Regions from separate parts of the Homo sapiens genome. Here regions 2, 3, 4, 5 and 6 are each linked to region 1. The links come from fine-mapping of genetic effects on gene expression. A gene starts in region 1. Each other region holds a variant in brackets. All regions are shown on one strand. Distances are between the middles of the regions. Region 1 holds the start of ZNF469 (zinc finger protein 469). Region 2 has its middle 56 kb from the start of ZNF469. Region 3 has its middle 52 kb from the start of LINC02182. Region 4 overlaps ZNF469 (zinc finger protein 469). Region 5 has its middle 82 kb from the start of LINC02182. Region 6 overlaps BANP (BTG3 associated nuclear protein).

Region 1 (5,071 bases):
AGTCCACCATGGCCTGATATCTAGGGCACTATCGGTGGTGACAAGACTCCAGGAGAAAGGAGGGGAGGGCATCTCTGCTTCCAGGCCACCCTGGTGTTCAGGTTTACTTCCGTTCAGCAAACACGAGGAAAGGGCAGAAACCCACTGAATTTCTCCCAGGGGAAGGTGGCAGGATGGGGCCTGACCAGGAATGTCAAGTCAGAAATGACCTGAAGAGATTAGGCATACAGGGGGAGACCATCCCTATTAAAATTATCCAAAGGCAGCCATGTGTAACAGCTGAGCAGATGTGCTGCCTGCTGCCTCAGGATGATGGACCAGTGCATTCCAGCTGGTAGGACTGCAGGAATGGCTGGAACAGGCTGCTGTGATGGGGAGTGAGTTCCCGGTCACTGGAGGTATCCAAGCAGAGTCAGTAACCTGGAGGCAGGGTCTGGTGGAGACTGAAGCGCTGATGAGGGGGTTGAAGTTCATGACCCCAAAATTTCCCTTGACCCTGAAATCCTGGGACTTCCTGGTTTGCACACTGCCCAGAGCTGCCAGCCTCGGGGCATTACAGCCACACACCCTTCACCTGTGCCTCCCAAGCTGAGACTCTGCGGGGCCCCTGGGTTCCCTTTGAGAAGGCCCTGGCCTTCCTTTTTGCCTCAGATATCCTCTTCCTCTTTTCTATTTGCAGGGCAGAATGATCACCTCCCGGTGAGCTCTGTCCTGTGGTCTGGGACCTGCCAGGCGCATGGCATGGAAGACACGTCTCCCAGGCCACCTCCTCCGAGGGTGCCTGGCTGCCCTTCCTAAAACTGCAGCTCCGCCCCAGCTTCCGAGCTCCCTGCTCAGCCCTCACGCCCGACGCTGTCCAGGCATTTACCTGTTTATTTTGTTTATTTTCAGGAATGCAGGGCTGTGGGCTGTGCTGGGGGCACCTAGGACAGGCTGGGCACTGAGAGGGCCTCAAGACACCTTTGTCCACCCGACCGGCAGAAGGGAACTAGACTTGCTCTTGGCAGAATGGGCAGGGGCTGTCCACGACACTACCGCGTGCTGTGCTCACTTCCCAGCATCAGCCCACTCTGACCATCAGTTTCTGCATCTAAGACTTGGGTTAACACGGATCTCAGGACGTAAGGATTAAACGTGATAACACGTGGCACACTCCCTATGCCCAGCATGGCTCACGGCTGGGGATGAAGCAGTTAACCGCCTCCGCTGCAGGAGCGGACTTGGCAGCTGAGCTGCCCCCCCGCCCCCGCCGGGGACCTGTCCCTCTGCCCTCGGCCCAGGGTGCAGGGACAAGGACTGGGTGGCCGCGGGAGTCCCCCGAGCCCCATTGGCCTTCCCTTCCGGCCGCCGCCACGCGGGGCGCCGCGTCCCCACGGGTCTAGACGTCCAGCCAACTTCCCGGCTCTGCAAAAGCCTCTGGGGGTGCGCGGGGCTGGGCGGGGGTGCGGCGTGGTCTCCCCCAGGGTGGGCTCCAAAGCTCCCACCCCCGTCCGGGGCGCTGACACCGCCGACTCGCAAGCCTATGCCGCGCTCGGAGCGCCGCGGGGCCAGCACGCCCGGGCGGGCGGCCCGGAGGAGGCGGCGGCACGGCTGGGGCACCCCCGGCTCCGATCCGCGATGAATGGGGCGGCCCGGGCCCCGCTCCCCGCAGCCCCGCCCGGAGGTCCCGCTCCCCGAGCCCCTCGCTCCGCGGCCCTCGCCAGTACGTTGCCCGGGCGCTTCCCAAACTGCCCACGGAGCCGGACCCCGCGCTGCCAACGCTCCGCTCCGGGCAAGGCTGCGGCCCCCGCCGGGCCCCGGCGCTCGCTGCCCCGCACGTCCGGGCCCGGGAGGAGGAGGTCGGGGGAGCCGGGCCGGGCGCCGCGAGCGCTGGGAGGGTCCGGCCCCGCCGGGGAGCGGCCCCCGAGGGCGCAGGAGCGGGAGCCGGGCCGGAGACCCCCGCGCAGCCCGGTGACACCCCCGCCCCGCGTTCCAGCCCGGGGTCCCCAGGCACCGCGCGCGCCCAGGCGGCGCATCCGCACTCACCTCCGCTCCGAGGCCCGCTCCGCCCGCCACGCCGGCCGCCGCCAACGAGCTCCCGGCCCGCGCCGCCCCAGCGCTCTGCAGCGGAGGCGCCGTCCTCATCCCGACCGCAGGCCCGCCCGGGCCGCCCGCCCGCCGGGCACCGAGCCGCTCTGCCGCGCGCTGCGCCTCGGGGCGGGGTGGGAGGAGAGGGAGCAGCCGCCACCCTGCCCAGGTCGCCGCGGGCCAGCCCTGCAGCCAGCTCCAGCCCTGGGCCGGGTGCTGGGAAGGCCGGACGCCGGCCGGCGGCCGCGGGGTCTGCCCCCCGGAGGCTGGGGCGGCTTAGGTTACAGACTCCGCCGCCCCCGCACCCTCCCCCCAGCTATTTTTAGCGCCGCTTTTCCTAGGTGTTTGTTTCATGGGACCCACCCCGGCGATGGGGGGCCCTGAGGCATTGCTCCCTGAACCCCCTCTTCACACTCCCCAGCCAGCCCACCCCAGAATGGCAGGCCTTGCTGCTGAGACGGAAACGCTGCATTCAGCACAACTTAAAAAACGTCTGCCATAATGCTACCCATGTGGCTTCCAGTGGCTGCTCTATCTCCATCCCTGGCCTGCGCTCCAGCTCCCCAGGTGCCCACACATGACACGCTTGTCCCTGTGCTTCTGTCTAGGAGGTGGGGGATGTCCCGACTGGCACCTGGCACCTGCCTGGGCAAGTTCGGTTTGAGTGGCTCAAGTTGGCCCTCGAAGGCACCATAAGGAGGTCCCCATGGCACGCTTTCTCATAGGTGGGAGCTAACATTGCCCCCAGACCTTCGTGTCTCCACTCTGGGTCCCTTGTCCAGCCCTGGGACTGCCCCAGACTGGCCCGTGAGTTCGGCAGCATTGCTGGTGGGGCGCTAGGAGCCATCCAGGCCCCTAGAGAGGGAGAGGCCCTTACCGGTCATTTGTCCAACATCTCCATTCACAGCCAAGGAAACCAAGGCCTGAAGAAGACAAGGAACCTGCCCAAGGCCACACGGCGGAGATGGCTCCAGGCAGAGCCCCCTGGCCCAGTACGTGCCCGTCCCCGGCTGTCCCAGACAGGGGCGTGTGGGCCTCCTCCAAGGGCAGGGGTGCAGCGTTACGGGCAGCATCTGGGGACGGATCGCCCTCCCCCACTTCAGAGGATCCCAAGTCATGAACTTGGTGGACTTCTAAGAAATAGGGTGGCAGTGGGGGGACTTCGCAGAAAGGAATGCTTTCAGAATTAGTCCTTCAGACAAAGGTCCCCCGGGAGCAGGTCAAGCACGCTTTACTTACGCAAGTTCAAGTTGCACACCCTTTTAAGGACACCTTTATTATGTAAAGCAAGGTGTGGCCTAACCACGGGCCTTCTGGTGGAGCCAATGAGTGGGCCTGCCCCTCCCCCAATCTGGTCTGCCTCCTGAAGCTGTTTTGGGACTCTGCGAACGGTATAGAATAAACTAAAAGGAACTGCACATGGCAGTGGGGTTTCTGTGCTGGCATCGCAGCACATGGCATTCCTGCCAGTGGACGCGAAAACGTGAATTGAAAAAGGGGCAGGGGCTGAAAGGCCCCAGAGGCTCGAGGCTTGGCTCACATTTCCATGGCATCATCTGGGGCCTCCAGGTCCTGGGATCTCCCTTTCCATGGAAAATGGGGAAGAACTAAGAAACCCTCTCGAGTTAATCAGGATTTCAATCAAGCGGGTTTCCTAAAGTTTCAAGGGCCAGGGGTCCCCTGGCTGTGGACAAAGACCCCAGAGGGCGTTTCCTTCCTTCTCGTTTCTACTGGGTCTGTTCTTGTTTCTAAGAAAGACTTCAATTTCCAAACCCGTGTGTGTGTGTGAGAGAGTGCATGTCTGTGTGTGAGTGCGTGTGTGTGAATGCATGTCTCTGTGTGTGAGTGCATGTGTGTATAAGTGTGTGTCTGTGTGCGAGTGCATGTCTCTGTGTGTGAGTGCATGAGTGCATGTGTGTGAGTGCGTGTGTGTGAGTGCATGTCTGTGTGAGTGCGTGTGAGTGCATGTCTGTGAGTGCGTGTGTGAGTGCATGTCTGTGTGTGTGTCTGTGAATGCATGTGTGTGAGTGCATGTCTGTGTGTGAGGGCGTGTCTGTGTGTGAGTGTGTGTGTGAGTGCATGTCTGTGTGTGCGTGTGTGCGAGTGCATGTCCGGGTGTGTGAGTGCGTGTGTGAGTGCATGCCTGTGTGTGAGAGCGTGTCTGTGTGAGTGCATGTGTGTGAGTGCATGTCTGTGAGCGCATGTGTGTGAGTGCATGTCTGTGTGAGTGCATATGTGTGAGTGCATGTCTGTGTGTGAGGGCGTGTCTGTGTGTGAGTGCGTGTCTGTGTGAGTGCATGTCTGTGAGTGTGTGTGAGTGCATGTCTGGGTGAGGGCATGACTGTGTGTGAGTGCATGTGAGTGCATGTCTGTGTGAGTGCGTGTGTGTGTGTGTCTGGGTGTGTGTGCATGTGTGAGTGCATGTGTGTGAGTGCATGTGTGTGAGGACGTCTGTGAGTGCATGTCTGTGTGTGAGTGCATGTCTGTGTGTGTATGAGTGCATGTCTGAGTGTGAGTGCATGTGTGTGAATGCATGTCTTGTGTGAGGGCGTGTCTGTGTGTGTATGAGTGCATGTGTGTGAGCGCATGTCTGGGTGTGTGCGTGTGTGAGTGCATGTGTGTGAGTGCATGTCTGTGTGAGGGCGTCTGTGTGTGAGTGCATGTCTGTGTTAGTGCGTGTGTGTTAGTGCGTGTGTGTGCATGTCTGTGTGAGTGCATGTGTGTGTGCACGTATGTGTGAGTGCATGTGTGTGTGCATGTCTGTGTGTGACTGTGTATGTGTGAATGCATCTGTGTGAGTGCATGTCTGTGTGAGGGCGTGTCTGTGAGTGCGTGTGAGTGCATGTCTGTGTGTGAGCGCATGTGTGTGAGCGCATGTGTGAGTGCATGTGTGAGTGCATGTCTGTGTTTTAGTGCGTGTGTGTGTGTGCATGTCTGGGTGTGTGAGTGCACGTGTGTGAGTGCATTTGTGTGTGAGTGCATGTCTGTGAGTGCATTTGTGTGT
Region 2 (5,071 bases), 56 kb after region 1:
TGGTCTCTGGGTTTTCTTTGAAGGACTCCGGCTGCGGGTGAACGTCGGGACCCCGTGGAGAACATTTAGGGCCCTGACCCTTCTTGCTGATTCGGTTTGACTCTGCTCCCTCCTCGGCCTCCTCCGCTTCCTCCTCGGCCTCCTCTGCTGTGGCCAAACTGCGTCTCCCCCACCCGCCTGCCCCAGCTGTTTTCTCTGGACACCTGGAATCCTCTCTGGTTCCTGTGTGGTGCTCACTGTGTGGGAAGCAGCCCTCCCTAGACTGGGCGCCTCTGTTGCTCACACCGCACCCTCTCCCATTGCACTCAGCTGTGTGTGCACATCCCAGCCCCCCGGCTGGAACGCTTGAGGGTTGTATCTGATTTCTTCTGGTTTTCCTTGTCTGGTGCATTTTGGGAGCCAGGGATGGAGGAGATCAGTGCGTTGGAGAAGAACCCGGGCCCTGGACCCCACAAAGATCCATGTCAGGCCAGGTGCATCGGATCAGCTTCCCCACAGAGCACACACTGATGGTGTCTTGCACTGGGGCCGTGGCGTTTCAGGTCCAGCAGCAGAGCTTCGACGGTAGCCATGCGGCCAGGCCCCGGCTGAGAACTGCCATGGCGTTTTCCTGGGGAACCTCCCTGGAGGTTGTGAAGAAGGCACTGCTATCATTCCCATCACACAGGTAAGGAAGTGCAGGCTGGGAGCCGTCATATGGTTCAGCCAAGGTCACACAGTCAGCAGCAGAGTGAGAATTTTGTTCCTCTACAGGCATTTTAAATACACCTTTAAGGCAGAATACAGTACACGTGCAGAAAGCACCAAGACTGAAGTGTCCGGCCTGGCCCATGACATAGCGTGCGTCTGCCTGCACAGCAGCCCCGGGCGAGAAGCACAGACTCGGCAGCTCCTCCTTCCCTGGGACCTGCGGATTCCTCGACCTCATCCCAGCTTTAGGACCGTGGCTCCCATGGCGTGTGCCCTTCTGTGTCTGTGGGAGTCGCCGTGTGTGCCGGGAGCTGCTGCTCTCCTGCCTGGGCAGCAGCATGGGTCGTGCATTCCCCATTGGCTGGGACAGCAGGTGGGTGTGCAGCCGTGATGGAGCCCGGCCGTGAAAGTGTTTCTGGTAGACAATCTCACGTTTCTGGTTTCTGCTCTGCTGGGTGTGTTTCCGGTGGGTGTGTGGGCCCCAGCTGAACTCGGGATCCGGCCGGTTTTCTCAAGCAGCCGGGCCTAGTCAGCTCCGACCACACTGCGGCCTCTCCAGCTCCTTCCGGATGACACCTGTGGTGCGGGGTCTAAGCATGGAGCCCAGGCTGCCCTGTCAGTGCTCAGTGAGTGTGCACGGAAGGTGGGAGGGGAGAGGGCGGTGGAGGAGCGGAGAGGAGGGAGGAACAAGGAGGTGGCCCTGGAAGCACTCAGCCCTGAGGTACGGAGCACGTGCCCTGTCCTGCTGCCGGTGACGCAGCCCACCGTGAGCACAGACCCCCCCCCAACCCCAACGTGATATGTTGAGGATGGCACAGGCCTGGCCCCTAGCTGGCCCTGGGAACCGCAGATGAGAACATTTCAGCACCCACACCATGCTTACGCCCTGGGATGGGGCTGCCTACCCGCTTCACAGGATGTGGCCTGCAGCCCACCTCGTCCAGGGAAGCAGGTGAAGGTGCATCTACCAAAGCCAGGTGGCAGGGGTGCTGCACAAAGGAGAGGCGAGGCCGGGAGGACCAGCGTGGCGAGGCGGGGGCTGGCGTGAGGCTGAGTGGATGGAGAGGCAGACCCAGAGAACCAGTGCCGGGGAGGCAGGGGCTGGTGTGAGAAGCCCCAGTGGTGCAGGCCACAGGGTCCCACAGGCTCTGGAGAGGCGGCCACCCGGGGCCTGGACCTTGTGCCAGTACGAGGGACACTATTTGGGATGGGGGATGGCCCCACTCCTGGGGTCCAGAGTGGCGCTTCTCCTGAGGTCCCACAGCAGATGCTGAGGACAGACCAAGGACATCAGGACCCTCCGCCCATCAGAGAGGCGGGGCCGCCCTGACCCAGGAGACAGCTCAAACCAAAGACAGACAGACAGGAGGGAGAGCGACGGGGAGGGAGACAGGGACACAGGCCGAGAGAGGTGGGGGTGCTGCTCCTGGGCCCCGCTGCCAGGTGGGCATTGGGTACTCTGCCCAGTTTTCAAGAAAATGAAGTGCAGACAAGGCAGCCATGGCTGAGTCAGGAAAGAGCGGGGGGGTCAGGACCGGCCCGAGTGCTGCCCTGGCCAGGGAAGGCCTGGGTGTCACCCTCTGATCTGGGATTGTTCTGGAAGGTCTCTAAGGTGCTTTCACAGCGGGGGTCCCATGAGTCAGTGACGTTAAAGCAAACACCCCAAACCCGAGGCCTCCATGTGAGTGCCTGCGTCAGGCACTCTGGTCCTGACCTCCATGTGAGGTGGCTGGAGGGTGGTCCCTGGGAAACATGCGGTGTCCTGCCCAGCAGTGTCACTGCCCTGGGCCTTGGGTGCTTTAATAAAGTGGTTCTGGATGTCCCCGAGGCCCAGGAGCAGCAGAAGCTGCAGTCCCTGGAGAGTGTCTCGAAGTGTATTAGACCATTTTCATGCTGCTGATAAAGACATACCTGAGATTGGGCAACTTACAAAAGAAAGAGGTTTAATGGACTTACAGTTCCACGTGGCTGGGGAGACCTCACAATCATGGCAGAAGGTAAGGAGGAGCAGGTCACTTCTTAAATGGATGGCAGCAGGCAAAAAGAATGAGTTTGTGCAGAGAAACTCTCATTTTTAAAACCATCAGATCTCATGAGGCTTATTCACTATCACGAGAACAGCATGGAAAGAGCCACCCCCGTAA[T/C]TCAATTACCTCCCACTGGGTCCCCTCCCACAACATGTGGGAATTCAAGATGAGATTTGGGTGGGGACACAGCCAAACCATATCACAAAGGCTCTGAGACCAGGACATGTCTGTGGCCCATTGCTGGGGCCTCTGGGTTGGCAGCCCCTCCTCTCTGCCTACAGGATCACACTGGCTGGGAGTGGGGAGGGGGCGCAATCACAGGCACAGTGGCCACCCCTGGACTGACTGACAGGTGTTGTTAGCTCTATTGCTCACAGTGTACAGCTGAGGAAGCTGAGGCTAGAGAGGAAGTGGCGTCCTTCAGGTCTAAGGGGGCAGAGCACCGATCCTTCTGCCCTGCAGCCCCATCTGGGATGCGTGGAAGAAAGGAAGGAGGAAAGGGAGGAAGGAAGGAGAAAGAGGGGAAGGAAGGACCAGGGTAGCCGTCACACGGAGCATTTGAGTGGCAAGGCCCTGTCTGTCCTGGCCCCACTGCAGACTTTTGGGGTGACATTGAACAAGTCACTTTCCCTTAGGGGGTCTCACAGGCCACAAATTGCATGAGGGATGGGACCAGGAGCCCTAAGTGGCAGAGGCCCTTCCAGCTCTACCACCCTGGGACACTGTGTCCTGGTGTGGGTATCAGTGTCATTTCTGGCCATGCTGGGCTTGGCGCCACCACACATAGTGCCCCTGGCTGCAGTGGTGGGGCCACGCCTATCACTGACCTGTGTCCTCCGGGTCCCCTGGGCAGGGTACTCAGCGGCTGCCCCGCCTTCAGGCATGAATTGGGAAGAGTGATGCTCTGGGTGGAAATTGTGCCTCTCCCACTGTGACCCTGATGGTTGCCCCAGAAGCTGGCCACCAATTGTGCAGTCTGGTGGGTGTCCTGGGTCTGAGCCCCTGCGGCCCCCCGGGGTGCACCTCGGGCAGCTTACGGAGCCTGTAGGGACCACCTGGAGTGTGCCGGTGAGGACTTGAGGCCCTGTGTATGTCACAGCTGCTGTCGCGACCACCTGGAGTGTGCAGGTGAGGACTTGAGGCCCTGTGTATGTCGCAGCTGCTGTCGGGACCACCTGGAGTGTGCAGGTGAGGACTTGAGACCCTGAGTATGCCGCAGCTGGATGTGATCTCAACCAGAAGCTGCTGGAAGGATATTTCCCAAGGGCACCTCCTCCCTCTCTCTTTTCCTCCTGCTCCCACTGGCTGAAGTGCTGGATCCCCCTTCACCTTCCACCATGACTGTAAGTTTCCTGAGGCCTCCCCAGAAGCAGAAGCTACCATGCTTCCTGTACGGCCTACAGAACTGTGAGCCAACCCTCTTTTCTTTATAAATTGCCCAGTATCAAGTATTTCTCTATAGCAGTGCAAGAACAGACTAACACAGCTTCCTCCAGCTGCCCCCTCTGCCCATCAGCATAAGACACACCCACCGGCACCATGACAGTTTACAAACGCAATGGCAACATCTGGAAGGTGCCGCCCCCTTTCTAGAGATTTCTGAATAACCTTCCCCTTAATTCGCACATACTTAAAAGTGGGTATAAAAACAGCTACAGTCCCTTATGCACTCACCCTGGCGCACTCCCTGTGGGTTAGCCCTGCTCTGCAAGGAGCAGCAACTCTCTGTACACGGCCGCTTAAGTAAACCTGCCTTCCACCACCAGCTGGCTTTCAAATTCTTTCCTGAGTGAAGCCAAGAACCCTCCCGGGCTGAGCCCTGGTTCTGGGACTCTCTGCATCACAGCCATAGGAGAGGACAGCACTGAGGCCTGGCCACACGTGTGTTCACACCTGAGAGCTCTGGGGAGGTCAACATCCCAGACGGCACAGCTGTGACACAACAGCCCCCCACATCCTTCCACCCACCTCCCATAAGGGGTGTGTGTGGGGGTCTGCGTCTCTGCCTTTGAATCTGGACCTTTTTACTTCTTGGCCAAAACAGAATGCTGCAGAAGTATTGCTCAGAAAATTTCAGGGCTGGCGGTCCGAAACTGACAGCCTCTACTTCCTGCCTCTTGGGACCCAGCCCTCATGCTGTGAGGAAGCCCAAGTAGCCCCGAACAGGCCCCGTGGGGAGGCGCTGACCACAGGCCCCTGGCCAGCCATGTGGTGTGCCATTTTTGCGGCGGATCTCACCCCAGCCCAGCTGCTCCAGCTGAAGCCTGTGTCACTGAGGTGAGCTGCTGCCCGCAGGCCCTGACAACCATTGATTTGTGAGCAAAATAAGTAACTCTGCTTGGTTTTAGCCACTA
Region 3 (5,071 bases), 240 kb after region 1:
AGAATATGGACACGTCTAGCAAACAAGGAGAAAACAGCTACAAAACCCAACAAGTTGAACTTCTCACTTCACTGTCTGAGGCTGAAAAGCAAGGATAGAGCTTCGCCTTCTCCTTAGAGTTCAGGATTTCGCTGGGCCACACGGGTGATGACAGAGAGAACATACGTCTTAAAGAGGCTTTGGAATCAAAGGCCAAAAATTAGCCTAAAACATTTCAAATGCAGCACACACTGCGTCTGTGACCTCATCTGTCCTTGAAAATAGAAAAATGTGCCTCAAAGAGCAAGAAAAATCTTTAAATGTCACGTGTCACGGGCTGGGGTGGCTGGAGGGACGTGATGTCCTCCGTCCTCTCCACCAGGGCAGAGGCAGCTGGCGTTAATCACACCATCCCCTTATCTCTGCCCTACCTCCTGAAAGGACATGAGACAGCTACGTTGACGCCAGGCAGAGTCCTGTTTTATTCTGGTTATGGCATCTCCTGGCCAACACTGTGCATGGTTCCCGAAGTTAAACGTGACCCAATCAACAAACAGACGTAGTAGGGACTGGCAGCTCTGCCGGGACCAGAGAGACGCCCCCCGCCCTCCCCACCACGCCTTTGGCCTTGTTGTGGCCTCTGTCCCACCGGCTGCTCACTGCCACAGGCTGGACCAAGCCTCTGCCCTGCTCCGGGACGGCCCCGGGCGTACCTCTTCCATCCCCTCCTCTGGGGTGTGAGGCCACTCCCCACTCCTGTCTCCCCAGCAGGCGGGTTCTGCCTCTGACCCTGCGCCGTTTCCCCTGCGCCTGGCACGTGGCAGACCCTCGTAAACGCTGACGATGGGCGGGAGGAAGGGCAGATGGGAGGCCCAGAGCCAGGGGCTCTCGGTGTCCTTGCGAAGAGGAAGGCAGCGAACACAGGGAAATAGCGGCGGGTCCTTGGTCTGGTGCCGCTGGCCGCCAGCCAGGCAGACAAGTGAAGATGCAGGAGACACAGAGCCAGTGCATGGCCTGGGAGGACACAGGCAGGGGCCGATCAGAGGACACATCCAGCCGGGACCGCTCCCCGCAAGGCTGCGACTTGTTCACAACGTTCCCTTAATTAGAGCAAACGTGTGTGATGTTTCTGACAAGCTGTCATCATTTAACAGCAAGAGACAGACGTCAGACACAAAGGCAGCATTTTCACCCGTGTCTGACACATGTCAGCCCTGGGCCTGGGCCACCTCCTGGCTTTCTTCTCCTGCTGCAGGGAGACGCATGGCCATGGGCCACGCATGGGGGGAGCAGAGGCCCGAAGGTGGGGGTGATCCCCACTTCCAGTTCCAGGCTGGTGGTTGCGTCTTAGGGGGAAGGAGTGGGGGGGCATCTGTATCCCCCCAGCAACAAGGAACACAGCCTCGGTGCCCCACCCTGCTCGGCGCCCCAGCCCGCTCTGCACCCCACCCCGCTAGGCGCTCCACCCCGCTCTGAGTGGTGCCTCCTTAAGGCTGGAGACGGCCCTGAGTGCGTTAAGCACGCTAACCTATTCCATCTTCATGGTGTTGAACAGGTTGGAACTGCTGAAATCTCCATTGACACAGGGGGAAACTGAGGCACAAAACGATCAAGCACTTGCCCCTGATGCCATGACTGAAGAAGCTCCAGGTGGGCATTCCGTGGGCAGGGCCGCTGAGCCCCCCACCCCCCCAGGGCTTCTCCAGGTGAGGATTCGGTGAGTGCTCACCGGGTGTCGGTGAAGTGCCTGGGGCCCCATCTCAGCCTGTCTCCTCCCATCCTAATCACAGGCCGGTGAGGTGGGGATTGCCACCCCCAGTTTTCAGGCAGAGAAACTGAGACCTCTGCTTGTCTTTATTCCTGAGACTCTGATTCTGCCGCAGGGGCTCTCCCTGAGGGGCCCTGTGCTCTCAGGCCCCTGTGCGTGGAGGGTGACGATGCCATCCGTCCCACCCTTGTGGGCCATGCTGGCCCCAGGCTGCACATCCAGGTGGGGCTGGGGATTAAAGCCAGCACACAGGTGTGACCCACATCAGGGACCCTCGGGTGGGATCCACAGCGACGCAGCTGCTGCCGGCCGACTCCCCGCAGGGTGAGCTGATGAGCCTCCCCAAGCCTCAGTTTCCTCCTCTGTAAAACAGGGTGGTGACATGTGCTTTATAGACCAGGCAATAGAGTTCGAGCCCCAGGGCCACACCTGGCACATCACGTGTGCTCAGTAAACAGAAGCCATTCTTCAAGCTCCTGAGACTTGAGGCTCACGCTGAGGTCTGTGCTGTTGATAAGGACCTTCTCAGTCCTGAGGCTGGAGTTCAGTGCTTGAGGCTCACACTGGGCTGTTGATAAGGACCCGCTTAGGCATCACTCTGAGCTTTTCAAGGTCCCTCCCATCTATTTCCACTTTCGAGCCTCAGGATAACCCTCGCAGGATTCTGGCCCGCCAACATCATCTGCCCAGCCTGGATGGCAGGGCCAGGGCCAGGAGGTGAAGGTCAGGTGCCTTCGCCTGACCTAGCAAAGCAGGGCAGGGCTGTGGCTGAGAGCCCAGGGAACCTGCTCACCCTCCCAGGGCAGCCTTTCCCAGACCCCCCGCCCAGCCGGGTCTTGCAGGAAGGACAGCTGATTTATTCTCACCTTCTTTCTCTGCTTCCCTGTGCTGAACGTGGCCCTGCAGTTTCACCCTGGACGCACCCTTGGACATCGCTGTGTTGTTCCCCTGGAAGCCTGTTGAGATCCTGGCCGC[T/C]GTGGACTATTTCCTATCATCTGCATCAGGCATCTCGAGCTCAGCTCAGATCTGCACACATGAGCCTGTCTGCGTAGCCTCCTGCGGCTGCAGTCACAAATGGCCCACAGACTTATGGCTGAAACAACACGAATGCATTCTCCCACAGCTCTGGCGGTCAGAAGCCCAACCGGCTCTCACGGAGCTGAAATCAAGGTGTCGGCAGGGCTGGTCCCTTCTGGAGGCGCAGGGAAGAATCCCTTTCCTGCCTTTTCTGGCTTCCAGAGGCTTCTGTGTTCCTGGGCTCATGGTGCCTCTGACGTCACCACGACCTCTGCTGCCATTGCCACTGCCTGCTGCTGACCCTCCTGCCCCTGGCCTCCCGCCTCCCTCCTACAAGGATGCCCGTGATGACCTTGGGCCACCCAGATGACCAGGATGGTCCCCACCTGGAGGCCTCTCGCTCAGTCCCATCTGCACAGGCCCTACTGCCGTGGGAGAGGCACACAGCAGGCTCCGGGGACCAGGACGGGGGTGCCTCCCAGGACCTCTTTCCCAGGCTGAGCGTTTCATAGCAGGCTCCGGGGACCAGGACGGGGGTGCCTCCCAGGACCTCTTTCCCAGGCTGAGCGTTTCATAGCAGGCTCCGGGGACCAGGACGGGGGTACCTCCCAGGGCCTCTTTCCCAGGCTGAGCATTTCATAGCAGGCTCCGGGGACCAGGACGGGGGTACCTCCCAGGGCGTCTTTCCCGGGCTGCATGTTTCTTTCCTAGTCCGACTCTTGTCTTCTAACACTGGTTTTGGTGTCTTTTGTTACACAACTGCTTTAACTTCTTATGTAACTGAAGACGTCCATCTTGTCCTTTTTGGGATTAGAATTTGGGGTAGAAAGTCTTTTCCTCCACCAGAATTATACAACTATTCTATTTTTCTACTAATACTTTTATACTTTTTTTGCAATTTAGCGGATTTATCTGCACAGAATTTATTGTGTCCGTAAGGTGGGGTTCTAACTTTGTTTTTCCAGATGGTGGATTCATTGGCCCAACGATGCCTCTGAATGATTCTTTCCTCTCTTTCAAACGTGACCAATTTCCTACATTAAATTCTCTTGTAAAGGGCCATACGCTAGACTTGATTTTTTTGTTTTTTTGTTTGTTTGTTTTTTTGAGACAGAGTCTCCTTCTGTCACCCAGGCTGCAGTGCAATGGCATGATCTCAGCTCACTGCAACCTCCGCCTCCTGGGTTCAAGCGACTCTCCTGCCTCAGCCTCCCAGGTAGCAGGGATTATAGGCGCCCGCCACCACGCCCGGCTAACTTTTGTATTTTTTAGTAGAGGTGGGGTTTCGCCATGTTGGCCAGGCTGGTCTCGAACTCCTGACCTCAAATGATCCACCCACCTCGGCTTCCCAAAGTGCTGGGATTACAGGCCTGAGCCACTGCGCCTGGCCTCAATTTAAAATCCACTTACCTGTTTCTATACTGAAATTCCTCCTGGATTAACACAGTTTTAGAGTATATTTTGGTAACTAGAAGGGCAAGGCCCCCGGCTTTTCTGCAGGATCTTTGAACATCGCGTCTCTCACGTTCTGCCTGCTCATTTGTAAATCAGTGTTGTCACTGACTTTCCGTGCTACCCCCCGATTTCTACGTGGCTCCGTCCTCCTTTCCTCCGTGCTACCCCCCGATTTCTACACGGCTCCGTCCTCCTTTCCTCCGTGCTACCCCCCGATTTCTACGTGGCTCCGTCCTCCTTTCCTCCGTGCTACCCTCCGATTTCTAAATGGCTCTGTCTTCCTTTCCAAATATTTATTCCTCCGTATTGTATTTCCCCGGCCACTTTTCTTACCAGCTCTCTTACAGCTTCCATTTAATATAGCCAAAGTTTTTTTTTATGACTATATTTTTCATTTAAATCGGTTCTGCCACTTCAATGCCAAATCCATTTCTCTTGCTCTGGACTTTCATTATGACTCCCTCTTTTGTATTAAATAATTTTAGATAAACACATGTATTTCCTGCTGTTCAATTATTCCCTGTCTGCACAGTGCTGATTCTGTGTTCACTGCACTTGATCCTGACAGTTCGTTTCTTCCTGTGGCTGTTTATTGGAGCTCAAACTCGGTAGGAGTTATTTTGTGTATCTTTTGTTGTTGATGCTGTTGTTTGGAGACTGTCTCACGAATGCTGGGCTGAGGAAATGTCCTCATTTACCAGATCCTCTGGCCTGGGGTTCTGTGAATTTCCGTCTTAGGGATTCTGTGCTGTGCTAACCATGCAGTCACCAGACTCAGGTGTCGAGAAGGTCTGGAGATTCTATTTCTTATGGGAAACTTCTTTCCTCTACTCAAAGCCTGGACAGACAGCA
Region 4 (5,071 bases), 36 kb before region 1:
GTTCTCCCCAATCTGCCCCTGGTCCCACCCCTGGCCCTTCCTTCCCAGCCCCTCCTGGGGCCTCTGCTGGAGAAGATCCCTCGGATTGGGTTGCCCCTCCCGTTTCCCTTCCTCCCGACCCCCACTCACTCCTGGCCAACCACACAGGGGGCTTTGGGGCCAGCCCCACCTGGGCTTGACTCTCAGATCCCGCACTCCTTGACTGTGGGATCCAAGCCCCGTCCCAGCCTCTCTGAGCCCGTTTTCCCACCTGTGAAATGGGGATGATCAGAGTCTTGACCTCACAGGGTGTGGTCAGAGGGTTAAACAGAACAACGCAAGCCACCTCATGGAGCACACAAACCAGCACGCAGTGAGTGCCTAGCAGACGTTTGCTCAGAAGCATGGCATCCCTCTTCCAGGAAGCCCTCCTGGATTGCGTGTGGTGTGAACTCCTCGGGCGTGTCTCCATGATCCTGCAATTCTCAAAGGGCGCCTGTCGTTCCACATCCTGGTGGCCATCCCCTGGGGACCAGGCCTGGGAGCCCTGCACACTCGGCTGCACTGCCCAACTGGAGTGCCACTGTCCAATTGGGCCTCCTGGCCTCAGTTTCACCAACTGTAAATGGAGGTTGGATCTGATGGGTCCTTGGGCCTGTCTGTGACACCCTGATATCAACGCTCACGCAGTCCCACTTGCAGCCAGGCATCCTAAGCAACCTGCTCCTCCTCCTTGTGAACGGTCCCAGCCCTTTCAGCTGCATCCATCCCTGGTGTGGGGTAGGCTTCATTCTCCTGGTTGTTTCTGCTGTCGTCAGGGCTGGCCCGTGCCTTCCCAAACAGCAGGGACTGGCTCTCCCTTTCTCCTCAGCCCCTCTGTGGGGAGAGCGGAAAGCGTGGGGTTCCAGGCGAGGGGGAGCTGCGGGAGAACTGCCCTTTCTTCCCTCGTCCCGGTGTGGGAGTGGGGCCTGGTGCATGTGCCCTGTCTTCCCCACACATGGAACCTGCGTGTGGCCCCGCTTTCCAGACATGGCACTGGGGAAGGACAGCATGGCTGAGAGCTGAACCTGCAGTTGGGATCTGGCCCCCACCTGCAGCCAGGGTCTGCTACTGTGTGCTGTGTGGCCTCAGGCCGGCCTCCACCCCTCTCTGTGCCTTCCTCCCTTTGGCAGAGGAGGGCATTGCGTGAGCCCCACAGGCCCCCGAGTCCTGCCTGGCTCAATCCCAGCTCCAAGGCCCTGGCCTGAGAGAGAAGAGTGGGGACATGGGGCCTTCTGGGTGACCTGAGCGGCTGCTCTGATGATGTGACTCTTCAGCCGAGGCTTGGCCTTGGGTGAGGGTCTCTCAGGCATGGCGTTGGGGGCATTCCTGGCTGTTGGAGGAACGTTGAGGAGGGGTGGAGTGCTATTGAGGGGGCAGACGGCGCTTCAAGGGGTGGGACCAGCATGGGCTTCAGGGGCAGGGAGTGGGAGGCTGCCGGGGGTTAGGGAGGCTGTCCACACCCAATCCCAGGGCCCCACCTGTCCCACCCTGGACACCACACAAGGGCCAAGAAATATGTGCCATGGGGTGGGACCGGGCTGGGAAGAGCAGCTGGGCTTCCAGGCCGAATGGGGGAAACTGAGGCTCACAGAACCTGCCCAAGGTCACATGGCAAGTCTGGGGAGCAGAGCCGGGGTCAGGATGTTGGCCTCCCGTGCTGAGCTCTCCCGGTCTGTTTGGGAGGCACCGGCCCGTCCTCGGACCAGCTCGGTCCAGTCTGTCGGTTCCCTCCGGCCTCTGGCTGCCCACCAGGGCTGATCCTGTCCGAGCTGTGTCACCCTGGGCACCGTCCCCTGCTGTCTGACCCCCCTTCCGTGGCTTGGCACGGCCCCTGAAGCCAGCTAGCCTCTCCCCGATGGGTGTGGAGCACAAAGCCAGATGCCATGTGTGCCAGCACCGCTGGGCAGCAGCCTCCGGTCCCAGGTCACCCGAGACAGCAAGGCTGGGAAAAGGGAGGAGTTCGGCTGTGCCCCGGCCTTCATCCTGAGCATCGTGTCTGCCCATCACACCCATCCGGCCCCATTCACAACTTGGGCAGGCGGCCAGGCTCACCCCAAACCCTGGTGGAGCCGAGCAGCCCAGGAGAAAAGCACAGGGGCCTCCCGTCTGTAGTCCTCGCCGTACGGGGCTGCAGCGCTGCTGCCTCCTGACATTTATTTCACAAACATTCTCCTTTCCTTTTGCTTCAAACGCTGCCGCTTTGCTTAAAAACTATCTGTTACCTGAGTGCTCAGATAAACCTTTGCAGGTAAAATTATATCTGAGATATGGCCCGGAGGGTAAGTTTAAGAATACGGCGCAAATTATCAGCTGCATTTATCTTAATTACTTTGGGGGAAAGTGGAGGCCGGCATTGGAGGGGCTGGGGAATGGTGTTCGTCCTGTCTTATCGGGGTGCCTATTCGAGATCCTTTAACAGGAGGGAGATAAGGGGGCAC[A/G]TGGGGAAAGAAAATGATGTCTTCGAAAATGACAGGGAGGTGGCCGGGGGGGCGGTGGGGATTTGTGCTTAAAGACGGAGCCCTGCCACCCACTGAAATTGCTGAGAGCTGGCACATGGCAAGAGGCAGGCAAGAACGGCAGCCCCCCTCTCCTCTGCCCCTCTGTGCCACAAAGGCCAATATTCAGGGGGTCATTACCCAGAAGGACACCAGGACCTCATCAGTGGCCAGGCCCCAACCCAGCTCTGCTCAGTCTCCTAGACAACCCTCCACGGCCTCACCGAGATGGGCCTTCAGCTTTAGCTCCAATGCCACCTCCTCCAGGAAGCCCTCCCTGACCACAGAGCTGTTGCTGTTGGTCCCGGCTCTGTAGATGGTGTCCATTTGCTGCTGTACTGTCCCCTGTCCTCACTGCCGGCATCACACCGGTTGGGGCCGCAGGTCTTCTGCTTGCCCCCATCCTGGGCCTGGCAGGGAGTTGGTGCTCAGGAGCCCGGGTAGAGTCCAGCTGGGGCAGCTGTTATTCCTGGGGTCTCCAGGAGCTGCTCCTTGAACCTGGGGCTCTAGGTTAGGGTGAGGGACCAATTCGGGTGGGCTGCAGGGTGGGGACAGGCCTTCCCTGTGAGCACACACGTGGACACACTCATGCACACATATACAGGTGTGTGCAGTTATGCATGCTCATCCATGCACACGCGTGAGCACATGCTCATACGTGCATACATCCACACATGCCCATGCACACGTGGGCTCACGCACACTCCCCTGCCAGGCCATGGGGGGCTTTGGGGCCTCATTTCTATAGGAGACTCTGAGAGCTCCCCGGCACTGGGAGGTGGAGGTGCAACTGTAGCATGCTGTCCAGAAATGACTTTGGAGACACAGCCTACCCTCTAAATGTCAATGCTGTACCGGAGCCCAGCAAACGCCAGCTGCCTCCATCAGCACATTTGTCTGAGGGTCCTTCTCCCCTGCCCAAAGGGTGTAGGAAGAGGGACCATGTGCGGGGAGCGAGAAACGTTTGGGGGCCGCCCCGCCAGGCATCTGGCTTGCGGGGACTGGATTGGGATTCATTGGCCCCAGGAACCTTCTAGCAGAGCCAAGGTGAATACAGCCAGGCGGGTATCCCAAGGCTGAGACGGCTCGTCCAGGGTGTGGAGGTGGCAGGTGGTTAGAATGGGCAACGGTGCCCACAGCCCCAGAACCCACTTTAAAATCCAAAGACGGGGGTGCCTTTCTCTCATTGGCCGGTCGAGCAGCCCTGCCTTGGATTTCTAGAATGAGGATCGTTGAGGGTGACTCGGTCAGTGTGCCCACTTCACAGATGGGAACAGTGGCTCAGAAAGGGTGTGGGCCTGCCCCAGGCCACACAGTGGCGGAGCCTGGGCTCTTTCGCCCCTGGCTTTGAGCTCCCTTGCAGCGACGCTCTGGGCAGGGTGGGTGGGGGCCTTGCTCTCGGCCTCCTGGGGGAGGCCCAGCAGACAAACAGTCCTCCATGTGCCAAGCAGCAGCTCTGGAAAAGGGCAGGCGGTGCCCAAGTCTGCCTTTCTCTTGGAGCTGTCAGCCCTCACCCTGTCACAGCGAGAAGGAAGCCGAGTACCACGGAGACTCCACGGGACCCCAGGAGGACGCCCTGAGTGTGTGGGTGGCTGACCTTGACCTGACAGTCCCAGGCCCTGGGGTAGACGCCGACCGCAGGACAGGCCCCTGCTCAGGCTCTGGTCCCCCAAGAGGAGCCCTGGGTACCCCTCCCGGGGAGCGAGCGTGCCACTTCCTGCAGGACCCTTCTGCAGGCTGGGTCCCGTGGAGGGAGCCCTGGAAGGGCGAAGGGTGCGTGGTCCTGCGGGGTTTTGATTTTGTGGGCAAGGTTGTTACCATCCCTCCCCTAAAACAACCAATCACCACGTGACTGCTTGTTGATGCTAGAAACCCTAGTTATTTTCCATTACTCTTTCCCAATGAAGCCCTGCGTGCAATTTCTCACGGTAATGGTGGTGGCGTCTGAAGTGGCTTCTTTCAGTGGTCTTTTCTGGGGCCTACCCAGACTCTCTGGGTCAGAAGCTTCCGGCTAGGCCCAGAGCTTGCCTTGGAGATCCTGCCGAAGTCACACACCACTAAGATCACAACGTGTGACAGTGTGAAGCTGGTCTGGGTGGGAGGTAGGACGGGAGGCCTGGGTGTCGTCTGTCTTCCAGCGTGGGGAAGCCCCAGCAGGCCCATCTCACAGATGAGGACGCCCGGGCAGCAATAGCGTAAGTGAACTTCGAGCAGCCACCTGGATTCCCCTGTGCCGTCAAGTGGCCTCCTGAGAAGGTCACGGCCTCTGGTTTTTGGGAACGGAGCCCATCCCACCTCGAGTGAGGTCTCTGCATGAGAAACCGGGACCGATGAGGCCTACATGGGGGTCACCTGGTCCTCCCACTGCCCCAGCCGAGGTTTAATGAGCTGTCTCCTGAGTGACATGATTAATGGGTTTCTGCGACGCCTGGTGGCTGCGTTAATTACTCTCCCGCTGCTGTGGGGTTCGGAATCATATCAGCCTCCTTTTTCAATTAAAAGTGATTATAATTTTGCCTCCTAAGGACGAGAGGATTAGTGAAGTGCCCGGGGTG
Region 5 (5,071 bases), 110 kb after region 1:
CTGATATCTACATGGTACTGACCGAGTGTCAGCGTGGCACAGCACTAATGATATCTACATGGTACTGACCGAGCGTCGGCGTGGCACAGCACTAACTGTGCACTGATATCTACAAGGTACTGACCGAGTGTCAGGGTGGCGCAGCACTAACCGTGCACTGATATCTACACGGTACTGACCAAGTGTCAGCGTGGCACAGCACTAACCGTGCACTGATATCTACGTGGTACTGACTGAGCGTCAGCGTCGCACAGCACTAACTGCACTGATATCTACATGGTACTGACCGAGCGTCGGTGTGACGCAGCACTAACCGTGCACTGATATCTACACGGTACTGACCGAGTGTCAGCGTGGCACAGCACTAATGATATCTACATGGTACTGACCAAGCGTCAGTGTGGTGCAGCACTAACTGTGCACTGATATCTACATGGTACTGACCGAGTGTCAGCGTGGCACAGCACTAATGATATCTACATGGTACTGACCGAGCGTCGGCGTGGCACAGCACTAACTGTGCACTGATATCTACAAGGTACTGACCGAGTGTCAGGGTGGCGCAGCACTAACCGTGCACTGATATCTACACGGTACTGACCAAGTGTCAGCGTGGCACAGCACTAACCGTGCACTGATATCTACGTGGTACTGACTGAGCGTCAGCGTCGCACAGCACTAACTGCACTGATATCTACATGGTACTGACCGAGCGTCGGTGTGACGCAGCACTAACCGTGCACTGATATCTACACGGTACTGACCGAGTGTCAGCGTGGCACAGCACTAATGATATCTACATGGTACTGACCAAGCGTCAGTGTGGTGCAGCACTAACCGTGCACTGATATCTACATGGTACTGACTGAGTGTCAGCGTGGCACAGCACTAACCATGCACTGCTATCTACACAGTACTGACGGAGCATCAGCGTGGTGCAGCACTAACCGTGCCCTGATATCTACACGGTACTGACCGAGTGTCGGCGTGGCGCAGCACTAACCGTGCACTGATATCTACACGGTACTGACCGAGTGTCAGCGTGGCACAGCACTAATGATATCTACATGGTACTGACCAAGCGTCAGTGTGGTGCAGCACTAACCGTGCACTGATATCTACATGGTACTGACCGAGTGTCAGCGTGGCACAGCACTAATGATATCTACACGGTACTGACTGAGCGTCAGCGTGGTGCAGCACTAACCGTGCACTGATATCTACATGGTACTGACTGAGCGTCGGCGTGGCGCAGCACTAACCATGCACTGATATCTACACGGTACTGACTGAGCGTCGGTGTGGCACAGCACTAACCGTGCACTGATATCTACACGGTACTGACTGAGCGTCGGTGTGGTGCAGCACTAACCGTGCACTGATATCTACACGGTACTGACCAAGCGTCAGCGTGGCACAGCACTAACCGTGCACTGACATCTACACAGTACAGACTGAGCATCAGTGTGGTGCAACACTAATGATATATACATGGTACTGACCAAGCGTCAGCGTGGCACAGCACTAATGATATCTACATGGTACTGACCGAGTGTTGGCGTGGCGCAGCACTAACCACGCACTGATATCTACATGGTACTGACTGAGCATAAGTGTGGCACAGCACTAATGATATCTACATGGTACTGACCGAGCGTCAGCGTGGCACAGCACTAATGATATCTACACAGTACTGACCAAGTGTCGGCGTGGCGCAGCACTAATGATATCTACCTGGTACTGACCTAGTGTCAGCGTAGGGTGGCACTAATGACATCTACAGGGTCCTGACTGAGTGTCAGCGTGGTGCAGCACTGACCCATGCACTGCTATGATTCCAGTACTAACTCGTGCACTGTCTTCATGCGATACAGCCCGTGACAATAAACATAAGGAAAAAGGCAGGACGTGACGCGAAATCAAGCTTTAAAGAGAAGAGAAAACCGCTCCTTACCCCTGTGATGCCTGGCAGTGGCGATGTGTTCACTCCAGGGTGGGGGCCGGTCTGACTGCTGGGTTCCTAGTGCAGCCGTTTGCTCTCAGCCTCCGGAGGACTCTGCAAATCACACACAGACATTTAGGCTGAGGTGCTCGGCGGGGGTGCTGGGGAAACCAGTAGGGTGCAGCCCCCCAGGGTGGGCAGTTGCCAGGCCCCGTGGAGGA[G/C]AGGGGCCAGCTTGATGGCGCTTGTCTGAAATGCACTGACTTTCCTCCCAATCCCCCCTGCTTGCTGCACCCCCACTCCATATCCAGCGAGTGTGCTTGGATGGTTTTAGCACACTCGCTTACACGCACAGGGGCCTGGCCATCCCAGGACCTGCCCATCCAGCTTTCTGTGGCCTTGACTCCTGTGCAGGGGCCTCGTTTTCTCACCCCATCCCCCACCCCCAGGATGGCATCTAAGTCTGGATCACTCTGTTTGGTCGTTGCACTGTGCCCCAGAGGGGGTGTCCACTTGCTGGCCCATGTGGAGCCTGTTGGAGGGTGCCAGGCGGCATCATGCTGGGGGAAGGACTGCAGCGCTGTGGTCCTGCCGGGGTCGCTGCCACGGCCTCCCAGGATGGACTCTGCACTTTATGGGCCTGTTCCCGTGTTTTCCAGCCCCTTGGTCTCCATCTTACAGGACTCTGTGTCTCACTTGGGCTGTGTGAGCCAGGGGCTGGGGAGACACCTTCCCCTGTTCCCCTGTGCCCCGCCTCCTGGGGGGGTCTTATCCCCTCCGCCATGCCGCAACAAGAGTCAGGACCACGCTGCCAGCCCCACACTTCCTTCCCTAACCAGGGTCCTGGGAGGCTTTGGGGTTTGGGGGAAGGAGGAAATCAGGCTCGTGACAAACACCGGTTTAGAAGCTGCATGGGATTCAGAGCCAGCAGCCTGGACACCAGCCTGGTCTTTCAGTGCCTCAGTGTACCCACTCTAGTCATGAGGAGAAAGCCGCGCCTCCCTCTCAGGGTGATGACAGAGGTGGAAGGATGCTGTGAGGGCCCGAGCCACTCCAGGCACCCTCCCGCCATCAACGCCCCGGAAGGTGGGTGGCGGCAGGAGCTGTGGCTCTGAGGGGATCTCAGGAGCACTGGATTCTTGGTGCCTTCCTCAGCACCCGTCACCCCAGCTAACTCCAGCTAACTCAGCACCCATGACTCCAAGTAACCCAGGTAGCTTCCAAAGACATGTTTTCTTGTCTCTGGTGATGTTTTACATGTAAAAGTGCAGAGCACCGGAGGCTGGGGTCTTTGCATGGTGGCTGTGCTTGCTGGGATCCACTGTTCGGCCTCCCCAGGTGCTCGCCGGCCCCTCCCCATTTTATGTAGGATCGTTCGGACTGTCAGCGAGACATAAAAAAGCAGCTGCCTGCAGAGGCCAAATGCGCGGCAGGCTCCCGTCTCCACTGTCTAATTAATTAATCGTTTCCAGGTTGCAGAGCTCGTGGGAGCATTTGTGCCCTATCTCTCCAGCCCACAGACATGGGGGTGGGGACACCCAGGCTTCCCGGAAACCCCCTCCCACACACTCACTCTGTCTTTAAGGCAACTTTGCTCCTTTTTAGTTTTTAAATCAGAGTGTTGGCATGTGTGCGAGCGAGTGTCCAAGCGTGTATACGCTGTTTGTAAAACAGCTCGGCTGTTGCCTGGGGGCCAGTGCTGCCCCATAAGCAATGTTTGCCAGTGTCCGTCTGCGAACCATGTCAGGTCCATGAGAAGGTTCTCAGGATCCTACGGCCATGAGTGAGGGCTAAGGCAATACGGCGAGTCCTCCATGAAGCTACGGTGAAAGAAGTGTCCTTTACTCTAATAACTGAATAGCAGAATTGAACTGAATTCTGTAGTTTTAAAACCTTCTTCCAAGGATAACAGAAACACAGAAAAATGAGCAAGCAAGCACACCCCCACGGCCTTTTCACACAGAGCACACGCATGTCACCAGAGCCCGATCCAGAATCAGGACACGGCCTGCCCTCCCCGGGGGCCCCGCCCGGACACCAGCCTGTCTTCTGAAGGCAGAGGGTGGGCTGATCTGTTGTGAAACTTCTATTGGTGCGGTCACACCAGAAGCATGTGACTTCATGCAACACCATGTCTATGAGACTTATATTTCTATCTTTTATTGTGGTAAAATACACATAACATAAAATTTACCACTTTAGCCATTTCTGAGTAAGCAGTTCAGTGGCATCAAACACGTTTCCGGCATTGTGCAATCACCACCACCATCCACAGAACTCTCTTCAGCTTTCCAACTGAAACTCTGTCTCCATTAAAGACTAACTTCCCAGCCCTGTGAATCTCACTGCTCTAGGGACCTCACACCATGGGTATTAGACAGTTTTTGTCTTTTTGTGTCTGGCTTATTTCATTGAGCAGAATGTCCTCAGGGTCCGTCCATGCAGTAGCATGTGTCAGAGTTTCTTAAGGCTGAATAAAAAATATTCTGGCCAGGCGCGGTGGCTCACGCCTGTAATCCCAGCACTTTGGGAGGCCGAGGCAGGCGGATCACGAGGTCAGGAGATCGAGACCATCATGGCCGATATGGTGAAACCCCGTCTCTACTAAAAATACAAAAAATTAGCCGAGCATGGTGGCAGGTGCCTGTAGTCCAGCTACACGGGAGGCTGAGGCAGGAGAATGGCGTGAACCCGGGAGGCGGAGCTTGCAGTGAGCCGAGATCGCGCCACTGCACTCCAGCCTGGGCGACAGAGCGAGACTCCGTCTCAAAAAAAAAAAAAAAAAATATTCCACAGTGTGAATACACCACATTGTATGTATCCATTCACCTGTCCACGGACACTGAATTTCTTCCACCTTTTAGCAGTTGTGAATAGTGCTGCTGTGAACATGGGTGTGCGGATGTTTCTTTGGACCTCAGCTTTCAGTTCATTTGGGTATGTACACAAAAGTGGCTGAATCATAAAGCAGATATAGTTTTAATTTTTTGAGGAACTTCCATACCGTCTTCCACAGATGCGGTGCCATTTACATTCCCACCAACCTTGCAGGAGGGTTCCAGTGTCCCTACGTCCTTGCCAACACATGTTATTTTCTGGTTTAGCTTTGTGTTTTATGGTAATTATCTTAAT
Region 6 (5,071 bases), 360 kb after region 1:
TCACAGCTCAAGTTCCAAGAGTCGCTGCCAATGCAGCTACTGTGGGGAGCTTTAAGAGAATAGTTTTCATTCAAATACTTACTAAAATATTTTGAGATGTCTTGGGTGAAAGGCAGTATCAAGTCACATTGTCATTCCTAGTGAAAATTCTCCAAGGAGAACAATCCCCCCAGCGATGCCTGAGAGGCAACTCAAAGAGAACTGTTTCCATTATCTTGTGGATAAATCCAACTAAGGCCATGAACTCAAAGCAAAAATAAAGCATAATTCAGAATCCACCCCACTTCTTCACCCGGAGTCACCCGGCAAATCGTGAGAATACAACGGCCGGCAGCCCCACGCAAAGGCCTCGGCCTCCTTGCCCCCATCCAGAAGACTTCCGGGAGGCCCAACAGGCCCTCTGTCCCTCACGGAGGAGCCTGGAGCAGGCCCGAGGCTGTCCGTGTGAAGGGCGCACGGGGCCAGGCACAGGTCCTGCGGCTCCACTGCTCCGTGCGCACCGCGCAAGCCTCTGGCCTCGGCTCCCGGCCACTGGTGGAGCCGCTGGCCACGCACTGGCTGCCCCTGAGGGTGCCACCAGGCCAGCTGCCCCGAGCGGGGGAGGGCGGCCTCTCCTGCAGCACGAGGCCTACCTGAAGGGCAGTAGGAGGACGAGTTGGGCGTTCTCCGCGAGAAGCTCTTGACCGCCAGGCTCTGGCCCCGCTGCTTGCGCCGCCACGCCGTGCGGCACTTGGAGTCGATGCTCTGCTTGATTCGGTACCAGTCGGATTCTGTGATGCCAAATTTATAGAAAAGGTGACCTGGAAGGACACATCCAAGGAGAAGCGGTGAGGCCTGTTCGGGACAGCCACCAGGAGCTGCCTGGCTGCAGGGCCGGGGCCCGCTGAAGAGGCCTCACCCAGGCACCCCAGCCCGCCAGGCCGGCCCCGTCTTCCTGCAAGGGTCTGGAAAGGCCCACTGCACAGAAGGTGCTTAGCTGGCCCACAGGCGGGGCTCCCCACGAGATATAAATGCTCACTAAGGTGTCATGACACACTCTTTCCATTTACTTAACTTCTCGATCCCTCTGACTCGGTCGGCCCACACCAGGTGCACACTTGGGGCTCTCACAAGATTCCCAGACCTTCCACGCCCCAACTTCCCTCTGCCCTGAGCTCACAGCAGCACCCAAGGTCCTGAATGCCCAGAGGGTGAGATCAGGGACCTCAACAATTGGATCAGAACTCGCTGGTCCTCTGCCTACTCGGGCCTGCTCGGCCACCGCCTTCCCTTCCTTCATGTCCTGGCTTCACCATCCCCCTGGATAACCACCTGGCCCTCCCGCCCTCCTGGGCTCCCACCCTCCTCCCACTTGTTTTGTCAGAGCACTGACCACCTTCCGGCATTTGGAGAATTCATGTGTGTATTGTTACTCTGTCCCCCTCACAAACACAGTTTCGAAAATTCAGGTGTGTATTGTTACTGTTCCCCTCGCAAACACAGTTTGGAGAATTCATGTATGTATTGTTACTCTGTTCCCCTGGTAAACACGGTTTGGAGAATTGAAGTATGTATTTTTGTTACTCTGTCCCCCTCATAAACACAGTTTGGAGAATTCAAGTTATGTATTGTTACTCTGTCCCCCTCACAAACACAGTTTGGAGAATTCATGTATGTATTGTTACTCTGTTCCCCTGGTAAACACAGTTTGGAGAATTCACGCATGTATTGTTATTCTGTTCCCCTCGCAAACACAGTTTGGAGAATTCATGTATGCACTGTTACTCTGTCCCCCTCATAAACACAGGGGCCTTTGTTGTGTCCACCCATGGGGGTCAGGCACCCAGAACATTCTGGCGCACAGTGGCTGCTCCTGTGTAAATAGTGATGACAACGGACTGCAAGACACCCTCCCATCGCTGCTCAGGTCCGGGGCTTGCTTATGTCATTCCCGACGCCTCTCTATCGTGCCTTCTCAACTAGAGTACAAACTCCTTACGGGCAGGGCCTGTGTCCTCATCCCTGGAGTCCCTATACCACAAGCCGAGTGGGCACAACCTACTCTCACTGTGGGGCCAAAGCCAGGTGCATCGTCTTCCTGGGGCTCACCGTGCACACGCAGAGAACTGTCCTGGGACCCCCAGTTCTCTACCACCTGCGCTACGGAGAGCTCTCAGCACGCCCTGAGCAGCATCCAGAGATGCCCTGTATTCAACAGGGAGAAAACTGAGGATCCGAAGGCCACGGCGGAGCAGGTGACAGGAGGGAGCCAGCGCCCCACTGCACGCCCGGCCACTTCCCACTAGGCCACAGGACCCCATCCCTGTAGCGATGACGAATGTGGGCATGATGGGAAGGGCTCTTCAATGCAGTGGCCTCTCTAGCTGGCTCATGCAACTTCACTAATTTACAGGAAAATACATGGATGGAATCCAAAATTGTAGTAATAAAAAGATTAAGCTGAAAAGTGTCCCGTTTCAACTACCAAGAGCCTCAAGTTCGGACTCTACTGCCCAAACCCTAAAAATCTGTTCCCATTGAGACTAAAATGGTGGAAATAATTAAAACAGAGGAAGAAGTGTTTGGGTTTTTTTAAGTACTCGATTAGGTATCAAAAGTCCCTCGGGTTTTGGAAACATGCCTCTTGACTTTCTTATCAGTAGATACTTGAGACACGTTTAGAATCTCTGTATAATCACAACCAACCTGTCTGTGCTGCAGACAAAAAGAAACCAGTCAGGACGGTGGGATTTGTAGGATGAGAGGGAAGAACACCCTAAAGTGGTTTCGGCAGCACATTTTCATCCTCATGCATAAAGAAGCCATACAGGAAGCAGCCGCCCTTTGGCTTCCAATTTTCGGGTCATCTCTAAAATACTCCAAGTCACCCTCGAATCTTGGCTGGGTGACTC[G/A]GGCGCCTCAGGAAGCCCCAGGCTGAGCAACTTTAGTGACTCACAGAGGAACCCAGCCGCTGGCTGTGGTCATGGGGGAACCCAACCATTAAAATCACTAGGAAATCCTTACAGGAGAGCCCAGCTGCTGCCAGAGGTTGCACCATAGTTACCGGAAAACCCAGCTTTCAAACTGCACTTCAATAGTTTCATGAGAGCCCAGCTACTGATTTTAGATACAAAGCAGCCCAGCTGCTGCCACCGGGAGGGCAAGAAAGAAACAGCCATCCCACCAGCAGGAAAACATCTTTGGAGCACGAGTCGATAAAAAGAAACATCCTCAGAACCGCCCTCCTGTGACCCTCCCACCTTCACACTCCAGGAGAAAAATTCCATAGACTTTGAAGGATGAATGAGTCCATACAAAATTTAAAAACGGGTTAGTAACAGGAAAGAAGATAAATCTAAAACACCCAGGTGTATAGGTAAGAGAAATGGGTGAAAACATTCACATTTAAATTCAACTTTGTAAAAATCAAGTTGCCAGTTCAAACCCTGACTCACACTTATTAAATAAAAAATATATATTCATCTGGTTACCCGCCACCGAGTTTCCATTGTCCTCAGACATCAAATTATCTAATTCCTTCCGTCTGCGCTCCAGGCCCCAGCCTGGGCGAATGCCCCCTGCCGGCCACAAAGGAGATCCAGAGAACGGACCAGCCGCCCAAGTGCTGCCCGCAGAGTGCAGTGGGTGAGGAGGGCGAGGATCTGAACATGCACTTACGGGTGCAGGCGCCGCCCGCAGATGCTACTGGACAGCAGCTGGGGCAAGCGCCCACGTCTGGGCAGCCCTCAGGGCTCGGATTCCTTTACCTTTTCTGACAGCACTGAGCAGCCGCACTTAACAGGGAGCGGGAAAAATCCTATCATGATGGGATCAAAAGATCACCTTGAATTTAACTGCCATTTTCCACTTTAAGCATTTGATCTCATGTTATTTGACAGACATTTTTTTTTAAAAGCCTCATGAAGTAGGAATGTCACTACTCTCATCACTTTGGTTTTGAGGCAAAAGCCAGAAAAAGGAGAAGTGATGTGTCCAAGTCCAATTACTAGTTAGGAGTGAGCACCGGCCTTAAAGTGCAAGCTTCCTGGGCCCACCAGGTGAAGAAGCAGCGGCCCTCACTGGATCCTGAGAACCCATGAGAGGTGCTCGGGGAGACGGGAAGAACACGCACAGCCCCGCACACGTGACTCTGCTGTCCTGAGCTCCCTCAGCCCAAGGCACCTGCAGCCCCTGCTCTGGGAGGCCTAGTCGGACTTCAATCGAGGCAGAAGTCTCCCCTGCAGCAGCGCCCAGGACACAAGGAGAACAGAAGTGCTCGGCATCCGGCTGCTGAGGCTCACGGGATCCCCACAGCGTGGCGTCACCTGGGAGCAGAACACCCTGTCTGGCCTCAGTCCCTGCTTTCCCCAGCCATATCCCCACACTACACCAACCGAGGCCCCTCAAGGCCGGGACGGGATTGCCTTCCAGGCTCAGCCAGGCAGCATCCCTGCCACAGTGCACGCCTCTATTTTCCTGGCGAGCTGTTCTGCAGTCCCCAAAGAGCTAAAGAGTCTCCACTACACCGTTAGCTGCCTTCCCACTTTCCAGAACCCCCGTTACTGACTCTGGTGGTTCAAATCATAAGCCGATTCCCAGCTCTCCATCTGTGGGGCCATGAGAGGCACTGTGGGAAGCGAGATGAGAGAGCCAGGAGGGCTTGTCATCTTGTGCCTTGGTGGGTGGCATGGGGCTTTATCAGTCACAAAGGAATGAAGAGCCCCACCTGCTAACACACTCTCATGTGCAAGGGAAGGCACCACAAAACCGAGTGCCAACAACTGATTTCTTCAAATTACAGACTCGACGTGACAGCGCTGCCTAGAAAAACAAAAGGCCTCTGCCCGATGGAAGCCAGCTGACATGCTCCCTCCCGGGGGAAGCATACACAGCTCACGCCCCATGCACCTCAAACGTCCAGCCTCCAGGCCAAGCCGGCCACCTTCTTCAAGCCTGCTGACTCACTCCTTTATGAGAAAAAATGATGGAGAGACACCTGTCCTCAGTCTGTTAGCCAGAGAGCCCCTCACAGCCACCTGCAGGACCACCTCCAGGTCACAGCTTCTGGGTGACCTGCTGAGAAGGAGGCTCT

Evidence for each region. PIP is the estimated chance that this variant, and not a neighbour inherited with it, causes the effect.
Region 2: its variant is the best candidate, but not a certain one, in a credible set for the expression of ZNF469 in tibial artery (GTEx, PIP 0.88).
Region 3: its variant is the best candidate, but not a certain one, in a credible set for the expression of ZNF469 in whole blood (TOPMed, PIP 0.63).
Region 4: its variant is the best candidate, but not a certain one, in a credible set for the expression of ZNF469 in whole blood (TOPMed, PIP 0.72).
Region 5: its variant is the best candidate, but not a certain one, in a credible set for the expression of ZNF469 in whole blood (TOPMed, PIP 0.90).
Region 6: its variant is the best candidate, but not a certain one, in a credible set for the expression of ZNF469 in whole blood (INTERVAL, PIP 0.71).

What each region holds. Positions count from the first base shown.
Region 1 is chr16:88,380,209-88,385,279 of GRCh38, reverse strand. It overlaps ZNF469 (zinc finger protein 469), which reads right to left and starts at 2,321. Exons shown (of 3, transcript NM_001367624.2): 1 at 2,026-2,321. RefSeq lists enhancers at 2,962-3,505, 4,050-4,594.
Region 2 is chr16:88,323,959-88,329,029 of GRCh38, reverse strand. It overlaps a transcript of ZNF469 not described here. Among named protein-coding and RNA genes, the nearest start is that of ZNF469, 56 kb to the left of the region's middle. The variant T/C (reference allele first, on the strand shown) is at 2,835.
Region 3 is chr16:88,139,733-88,144,803 of GRCh38, reverse strand. It overlaps a transcript of ZNF469 not described here. Among named protein-coding and RNA genes, the nearest start is that of LINC02182, 52 kb to the left of the region's middle. The variant T/C (reference allele first, on the strand shown) is at 2,723.
Region 4 is chr16:88,415,987-88,421,057 of GRCh38, reverse strand. The region is part of intron 1 of ZNF469 (zinc finger protein 469); the gene reads right to left. Among named protein-coding and RNA genes, the nearest start is that of ZFPM1, 35 kb to the left of the region's middle. The variant A/G (reference allele first, on the strand shown) is at 2,460.
Region 5 is chr16:88,273,459-88,278,529 of GRCh38, reverse strand. It overlaps a transcript of ZNF469 not described here. Among named protein-coding and RNA genes, the nearest start is that of LINC02182, 82 kb to the right of the region's middle. RefSeq lists an enhancer at 3,071-3,876. The variant G/C (reference allele first, on the strand shown) is at 2,164.
Region 6 is chr16:88,023,212-88,028,282 of GRCh38, reverse strand. It overlaps BANP (BTG3 associated nuclear protein), which reads right to left. Exons shown (of 14, transcript NM_001386991.1): 8 at 633-800. Among named protein-coding and RNA genes, the nearest start is that of BANP, 74 kb to the right of the region's middle. RefSeq lists an enhancer at 573-1,143 and a silencer at 3,420-3,666. The variant G/A (reference allele first, on the strand shown) is at 2,892.